Regions from separate parts of the Homo sapiens genome. Here region 2 is linked to region 1. The links come from fine-mapping of genetic effects on gene expression. A gene starts in region 1. The other region holds a variant in brackets. All regions are shown on one strand. Distances are from middle to middle.

Region 1 (4,382 bases):
GCAAGTCACTTAGCTTTGCATTTTCACCAACTGGCCACATCAATAACAACGCTGCCCCAGGGACAGAGGGCTCAGGCCCAGCAGAGACTCCTGAACGGAAGGGCAGAGGATGGCCACTACAGTCACTTTAAGAGGATTCCCGCTGACTCAAAGCAAACCTACCCTTTCGGTACCTCACCAATGGCAGAACGCCGGCGGCAGCGTGGGCACCAACAGTCACATACAAATGCCCCTGCAACACCAACACACAGGCCTCACCTACAGGGCAGGAGGTCCTGGGACAGCCAAGGTACTGCCTCTCTCCTTACCCTGGGGACTCATCTTAGGGCACCCACTTGGCTTTCCCCCCAAGGGGGCTGGGATCCCCAGCCTTCTAGGACACTTAACTGCAGGGCACTCCCTGCCAGTAAGGCTTTGGGGTCTATGGGACCACCTGCTAGTGGCTTCCAGCAGCCATGGGCTCCTCTGTTCCGACCTTTCCCGTGCCCTGCAGTTTTCTAGGGCGCACTGAGGCTCGACCACGGAAGGTCCGTGCCACTCTCGCAGGCCGCTCCCGCACAAGTGCTACCGGCCGGCGGCGGGACACTTTCTTCCTCTGGGCCAAACTCCCGCCTCCGCGCTCAGAGAGACAGGGAGCTAGCGGGCCGGCACAAGAGGCGGCTCTCTTTCTCACCGAGTCACGCTCATGCAGATGTCCCCCGGAGGGTCCAACCCGCCTTCCCCTCGCCTGCCGGGCACCCTGGCGCTCGCGCCGTCCTCCCGCGCTCCCGCTTGCCCCGAGCTCTGGAGCCCGATTCTCCCCGAAGCCGCTGATTTGCTCGGCGCTCAGCGCCTCTCGGGTTACGCGGCGGCTGGCGCGAGGGTGATGGCTGCGGTGAGAGCAGCAGCCTCAGACACGAAATGCTCAGAGCGAACCTCCGCGGCGCGGAGATCGCAAGGGAGCCCCAGCCTCCGCGCGGCCCCGCGGCGCAGCACACGGCCAGTGCACAGCTCCTCGGCTCGCGGCCGGGACCCGGGGGGCGTGCGGCCCCGGGCGCGTGCAGCCCGGGGCTCGACCTCCTCCCCCCGCAAGTTCCGCCCGGCTGTCCCCCGGTACTTCCCCCCGCCCCAGCCCCGGCCCCCAGCGCGCCGCCCGCCCCGCAATCCCCGCACAGCCCAGCAGGTGTGCGCCCGTGTCCCCGCGTGTGTGTGCCTGCGCGCCGCGGCAGGGGGCGAGGGGGTGAGGGGCGTCGAGACCCCGGCCCGCCACCTACCGTCCTCCTTGTCCAGCACCATCATCTCGGGCGCTCCGTGTCCAGCCGCAGCTAGGCTCGGCCGGGAGAAGGGCGCCGACTCGGGGCGCGCTTTGGAGGGGCGGCCGGTCTTCGGGCAGCTAGCGGGCTCTAATTACCCGCTTGTCCGGCTCTTAACCTAGATTGCACTCAGCTAGAATTACATTCAGGAGTGAAGCACTTCGCAGATACAAAAGCAGTCTCACCTACTTTTGTGCCTCAGAATTGGAAGGAACTACGAACTGCAATTTAGAGAGAGAGGGAGAGGGAGAGAGAAGGGGGAAAAGAGGATCAGAGCCGTTTCTTTGATTCTCACCTTCTAAATGGCTCAATTTGCCCAGTATAATCTGTCTTAATGTAATTGCATTTGATAGCTCATAACCCTGTCTCTGGCAACGACACAGCTTTCAGCCTCATAAAGTGTTTTCCCCTCGGATTTAATCTGAATCTCAATCTAAAATTATATTCAAAGAGATGGGGGAATCTCGTGGCCGTCTCCCGCTGCCTTTCTCCCTCAATGTATGAGGTTTGCACTCCTGCTACTGCATAAATGCACACATTTCCTGAGGCCTCCACCCTCCCGGGTTAATGGGGAGTGGAGACGCACGGCTGTCCGGCTCCGCAGCGCCACCTGGAGGCTTCTAGGTCCTAGCTCGGTGAGCGTCTTTGCTCCGATCCCAGGGTCGTGGTCTTCAATGATTGTCTGGAGGACGCATCCCATCTGTCACTCCCAGACCCTCAGCCTTGATTTTTGTCTCTTCTTCAGAGCAATATTTCTCTGATCACATCCTTTTCCTTCCTACCAGTTCTGCCCGGGGTTTCGTGTTGCTTCCCGGATTGTTTGGCAAAGTTAACCCTCTTCAGGGCACAAACGATCCTACCGAGTCTTACAGCACTACTCCTGACCCCAGCAGCACCCCCAAAAGCATCCTGACTCCATGGAGCGGGAGAGCTTATCTCAACTTCTCTCGAAGCAAGCACAGGCATGGCCTTGAAAGCTTTTCTCATTCTACAAATATTTACTGAGCATGTATTATGTGCCAAGCACAGTTCTAAGGCACTAGGGATACAGCACTGAACAAAACAAAGATTCCTGCTGCTATTATGGAGTTGACGATTCTTGCTCTGTAACTCATAAGGCAGGAAAAGAGACAGTGCCCATCTCTTCTCCTGGACCCTGCTTCTCCCCAGAATCCTGGGGCTGATGTTCTGGCTGCCTACCCTAGGAAGGCCACCTACCCACCTACTTTTTTTCTTTTCATTCCTTTTTCTTTCTTTCTGTTTTTTCTTTTTTAAGATGGAGTCTTGCTCTGTTGCCCAGGCTGGAGTGCAGTGGTGTGATCTCGGCTCACTGCAAGCTCCGGCTCCCAGGTTCCAGCGAATCTTCTGCCTCAGCCTTCCGAGTAGCTGGGATTACAGGCACACACCACCACGCCCAGCTAATTTTTGTATTTTTTAGTAGAGACGGGGTTTTACCATATTGGCCAGGCTGGTCTCGAACTCCTGACCTCGTGATCCACCCACCTCAGCCTCCCACAGTGATGGGATTACAGGCGTGAGCTGCTGCGCCTGGCCGGAAGGCCACCTACTTTTAAATCCCAAGTCTTTTTTCTTTGCCTAGACAGTACAGAGTTCCAAGGTGGGATAGAAATAATGATTTTTCTTCAGCCCAAGGAGGGCTCCAGACAGATGTGTTGGAGGCTTGGTCCTGGCAATCACTTCTGAGGACTAGACCCAGGGAAAGAGAAACGGGCTGAAGGGCCACCAGTTGGGATTCTATCTCATCTCTGCCAATTACCAACAGTGGACCTTAGCAAGTCTCTTTCTCTATCTGGGCCTCAGTTTCCTTGGCTGTGAGGTGGGAGACCTACTCTTCCTGTATCTATGGTTGCTGTGGGGGTCAGATGAGCTAATGCATGTTAATGTGCTTTGTAAACTGTGGCACTCCAGACAATGCAGGGGGATGGGGGGAGATTATCTGGTTTGAAGGAGACCTGGAGGCTAGGTCTTACCCTTTAAGCCCTGGGAGGCCCCAGTGCTTGACAGGGATGGGGAGCAGCGGGCTGCAGCCATATTCCTCTCTGCTAGGCAGGGAAGTCAGGCTTTGAGAAAACAGAAAAGCGCTGCTTCTAATGAGATGCCTCATCTGCAGCTCAGAGGGTTTCACTTTCCCCTTCATCTTGAATACTTAATCCTAATAGTCCTTGAGTATATTTGATGTTAAATATATCATTTTGCTCAGACTCACCAGCCTCAGGACTGCGAGCTTGATCTCTCCCCTGCCACTGCCGCCAGACCCATGCCCTCAGGGTCTGAGGGAGGCTTTGGCACCGCTGCCACCGGCATATTTGGTGCCAGCCCCTCACACCCACCAGAGCTGGGGGCTAGACAGTGTAGCAAGCACAGGGCCTGACAGGCTGGCAAGGGGCAACTTCTTGCCGTAGAAACCTCTGTGCTACTGGAGGCGTTCACTCCATCGGGGCTGCATGCAGCCTTACTACTGACCTCCAGGGGCAGATTCTCCTCACTTTCAGGGGCTGGCCCTGACCCACAAACCAGGACTGGGCTAGCTGTGGCCACTCTTCCACTCTCTTGTCCACGAGTTTGTCTGAATACCAGCTCACCTCAGCCTCCAAGGTACCTAATTGGCAGCCACATGACTGGCATCCCTTTGGGGAGTCAGGGCCCTGTGCCCCAAACCCAGGGACTGGAGCAGGCCTGGGGTGCTGAGCAATGGGCTGCAGAAGCAGGTAGGGCATGCCAGCAGGGGACTGGTGCTGTGTGTGCCCACAGGTGGCTCTTTCTGCACCCCCAGCTGTGAGCATGGTGCTCCCAAACTGATCTGGAGAGGAACCTTCACAGCAAGTCTTGGAGGGTTTGGGTGGCTTGAGCTTCCAGCCAGGAAGGGGCTTGCTGGGTTGACAGAGGCAGATAGAAACATCACTCACCCCATCTGATGGCCTCTCTCCACTCACTGGGCAAGCAAGTAACTCCCACCCCCATACTCGCCCCACCCCCATGCTCACCCCACCCAAGCTGCTTCTAGGTCCAGGGACACGCCCACAGCACCAGAGTGGAATCCTCAGATCCCCTGGGGCTGGGGGAGGTAGT
Region 2 (4,382 bases), 130 kb after region 1:
TTGGTCCCCAAAGGGCAGGGAGACTTCTATGGCCCCTGTATCAATGCCCTGGTTATGGTGTGAAGATGCCACAGGATCTAGTTCGGAGAGGAACCAGCAGAAGCCTGGACGGAGACAGGGTCTGCACGGCGTCTCTAGTCCCATTCTCTGGGCCAGGACAGGACCTGATGCATGTTTGGAGGAGGAGGTCCAGGATCTGGCTAAGGTACCTGGGATGGCACTGGGCAACAGGGAAGGGGAGGTCCTGAGAGTGCCATGGTGACACTGCAAAAGTCCTATTAATCTTCCCAATGGGGCAGTGGTGGGAACCCCCACCACTCCTCTGAGGGCTGACCCAGATTATTCAGGGAAATATGGAGAACTGACCCAGCAAGCACAGAGTTGAGCTGATTATAGCAGGGACTGAAGAAGGCAGCCACAAGAAATGCAAGACAGCCGCAGATGCGGCCTCGCTTTGAAGAACAAAGGCAAAGAAAATTGGCTCACCAATGAGAATTAAGTGATAACAATGTACTGAACAGAAATCAAAATCGGTTCTCAGCCAGCTCACTCAGAAAAATGCAGGATCCTGAAGAGTACAACTGAACGATGTGAGACCTTTGAATAGTAAAAACTTTTACCTTAAAATGCTTTTGTAAAGTGATTTCAGTGCTTGTAGAGATGAAGCGAACACGAAGCCCAGGAGACGTCTTGTCTTCAGGTCTCCTGTGCTTCCTGGGCTCCACGGGGTCCCCTGGAAGCCCCTTCCCTGGTCTCTCATTGGCAGCAAGCAGCCAGTGTAGGGTGGCCTCCTCCCAGGTTCTGTTGGCTGTCACAGTGAAGTGTTGCATTCTTTAGGCTCCCAAACCTTGAGCCCAGACAATTTCAGATTTCAGGTTCGGTATCGGGCAACGCTCCAGGTATCCTGCCCTACCTGGGTCCCAACCTCAGGAACATCTCCCCACCAGCCCCTCCCCAACCCTTAGTGACCACCCAGGTGAATCTCTTTGTGTCAGGAAGAGCTCGTTTATCTTTTTTGCCCTTTACTGTACTTTGGTAGGAGACTGGCAGCCAGAGACAAAACTACCTTGGGTCAGGAACAATGCAGCACTGATAAGGAAAGGGTCTCCACCACTTGAGTTGCAGCCAAAGACAGGTGGTAAACTTAAATGCGGAAGCTGAGGATTTAACAGAGACTGTTCATAAAGGCACTGAGAGGGTTTGGGAAAACCCACAAAGGAAGACATAGTAGCCAGGGCAACAGGCTGGTCTTGGCCTGCAAGGGCAGGGGACACAGCTGTAAGAGGGCTGCCTGGCAGGAGCCACGCCCACCAAAGAAGGCAGCAAATGCCCAGCAGCCTGGCCCAGAGCAGGGAGGCACTCGGGAGTCAGCGTCTGGACCTGGCTCTCCCCTTCTCTCATCTCCCCTTGGTGCCTTCATTGACAGAATGCCAATGAATCCAGAAGCCCAGGGAGTGTGTTAATGCAGTACCTGAAGATCAGCCTCTCTGGGCAGAGACGGCAGAGCAGGCAGAGTGGTTCTGGAGGGGCAGATAGAAAATATCCAGCCCAGGGTCATTTCCCAGAGGCCACAGCTCCTTGGTCTCTAGCCAAGCACAGCCATTATAGGACGCAACTTCCCTGGCCAATTTCAAAGCTCTGCTTGCTGCTGGGAATGCATGTTTAAACAAAGCCTTTATTCTCTGTTCCAACAGCGCGGCTGGAATTTAAAAAGCTTCATTTTCAAGACTGGTTGCTTTTGATCTGTCTAACCTGGAACTTACATTTTGGAGTCAAATAGAATTATTTAAACAAAGCATTTCAGTGATAAGCACAAGATGTTTTGATTTTTTTTGGCTGGCCCCCACCCAACCCCCGCAGCACCACACAACATTCCTACTCAAAATGAAAGGACAACTTTGTGGCTGACTCTTAAAATCTCAGCTTCCATTTCCCTGGGTCTTCGTTTCCTCATCCTGTGCCTTTTTCTAGGTTTGCCTGTGTACGGGCCCTGGGAGGGGGCTAACTTTACCTCAGACTGGCCTGGAACAACCAAATATTCTATGAGCA[G/C]TGCTTCCCTCCTCTCGCTCCGGCTTCCGGCTTTGGCAGAACCATGTGTTGTCATCCTGTCTTCTTTATTAATTATAATTTATTTTCATTTTGCTCCACATATCCCCATTTTCCTTCCTTCTCTGATGTAAGGCCTTCTCTGATATCATCCTCTATTCTCCTCAAATGAATTTGTCCCCAGCTTGCCTGCATTCCTCTCTTTTTATCATATTTTGCCTGCCTTATCTGTCACTCAAGTTGGAATGCGGATCGCTACTTGAATTCCTTGAAAATAACACCTGCGCTGTGCTGTCCTAGACAGACTATGTCCCGCTGGATCACAGCAAAACCCAGCTCCCCATGCTATGGAGCACAGGAGGTGTCACAGTGTTTGTTATTGGTGCCTTCGAGTTGGCCTATCAGTCATTGAAAGTCAATCTGAAATGGAAGAGCGCCCTTTTTTCACAGCTGTGAAAGCAAATGGAGGAAGGAAGGCCATATATCCCCAGACCTTAAAGAGGCACATCTGTTGGAAACAAAGCTCAGACATGGCCTGGTCCAAGTGTGTTCTACACAACGAAGTAACAAAAATACCACTAAGTAACACAAAAATGATGTGGAAATTCTCTCTAGAAAGAGTGAGCTAAATTTCTATTAAAATGACTCCTACAAATCAAATGAACACCTCGATGGAGGGGCGTTAATAGAATGCATCATATGACAGGCAGGGTGGCTGGCCTTGCCTGGTGTGAGGTGGGAATAGGTGAAGACACACTAACGTGTTATAAAATGACTTCATCTTTTAGTTAGTGGTTAGTTCTGGACCTTTGCTCAAGCTTACTGAGCAGAATCGCTAATTTTTAGGGCCAAGAGAAGTGTGGATAGTACTCTATCTAACAATAGGATCTTCTAATCCCAAAAGAATATCACTGTGAAAGTAAGAGTATTTTTAATATACAGAATATTTCATTTTCAAGCCCAGGGAATAGGCAGAATCAAAGCCACCATCTTGGTTAGGCTTTTCTGCAAGGAGACAAGCAGCCACCGTGCACTAGGTCCCTGCTTCTCCCCGCCGGAGGTGACGGAACTGCAGTGCACACATCTGCCTTTGAGACTACTAGGGAAGGGAAGGCTCCACTTAGCTAATGAAGCCAGAGTTCTCATCAGGTGAACAGAACACGCCCTTTAAAGACTGGCTTACTAAACCCTGAGAGAAAGCTTAAAGCTCAGGATATGGTTTATGGGCTTATGATACGACTGGAACTAGACATCAAGAAGGGAGAAAGATCTTGAAGCAGCTATGTTAATGACAGTTTAAAATAAAATACAGACAATTTCCACTAGATATGCCTTGGCCAGCAGGTTCCCCCAAGGAAAGCACACTGAAGGTACTAAGAAAATACTGGCAGAACCACGTGGGGCAACACAGGCCAGTGCTATCTTTGACTCATTCGGAATCACAATAGTGTCTTCTAAACTAACTGCAAGAAGCACACGTACTATTTTTAGTTACCAAGTGGATTTAAATGCAACTAGTATATGCTCAGCTGGCCAGATGTGGGCCATTTTGGAGACCTGACAGTTCCATGGGGGGTTGGAATGGAACTAGGTTATGACTTTATGAAGGTAAAAGCAATTGCAAATTCTTTCTTTAGAATTTGCTTTGGAAGCAAAGGAAAGTAGCTATTCAACCAGTTTGACTTCAACTGGCAAAATTAGTTACCCAGGTGGAAAGGAGATGTCTATAAAGCTAAGAGAAATGAGGTATGGTCCCCTGTTTCTTGCTTCATGATCTTCCCCAAAGATGTGTGCCTACCATTGCAGCAGTAGAACAAACTTATAATTTGCATAAAGGCTTAGAGGACCTTATTATATTCACCTCTTGTTAACATAAAAATTAATGTGCTGAGTAACATCTGTTTTTTATTGATTTAATCAATACATTGGGAATTTAGCAGCAAGTTAATGGCAAGCAGTTACAAAATCTCCTATTTTTCTACATTTAAAATAAGCTGTCTTAAACAATCTATAGCAACCTAAAATCTCACGAACACATGTGAATGACTGAAGCACTTCTGCTGTAATACGTATGGCAAGTTTATTAGTAATTTTCTAACAAAGTCTTCTAGTGCAAAGTGCACATAATTATTTGGCACCTCCATTACTATATTTGGCCTCTTGTTTTCCCCTATAAATAGCTGTGCCTAAACATAAGAATTTGAAGTAAAAATGAGCAAGTGTGCCCACAGCCTTAAATTGAAGGTATCTGCCCCCCTAAAAAACCTTCGTGTACATCTTGAGTTGATTTCCACTGCAGCCCACTGCCAAGCCTACTGGTGGCTGTCCTTTAATGC

Which allele goes with the higher level. Positions count from the first base shown, and alleles are read on the strand shown. Sizes are in standard deviations (SD) of each study's normalised expression.
For the expression in cerebral cortex of the gene that starts at base 1,794 in region 1, allele C in region 2 goes with a higher level than allele G (moderate effect, 0.67 SD a copy in GTEx).

What was found. PIP is the estimated chance that this variant, and not a neighbour inherited with it, causes the effect.
Region 2: its variant is the best candidate, but not a certain one, in a credible set for the expression of LMO1 in cerebral cortex (GTEx, PIP 0.74).

Annotation. Positions count from the first base shown.
Region 1 is chr11:8,262,085-8,266,466 of GRCh38, forward strand. LMO1 (LIM domain only 1) reads right to left here and starts at 1,794. Exons shown (of 4, transcript NM_002315.3): 1 at 1,254-1,794. The coding sequence starts at 1,278. RefSeq lists an enhancer at 1-219 and a silencer at 916-1,005.
Region 2 is chr11:8,387,939-8,392,320 of GRCh38, forward strand. It overlaps STK33 (serine/threonine kinase 33), which reads right to left. Exons shown (of 16, transcript NM_001352389.2): 16 at 3,932-4,382. Among named protein-coding and RNA genes, the nearest start is that of LMO1, 130 kb to the left of the region's middle. The variant G/C (reference allele first, on the strand shown) is at 2,050.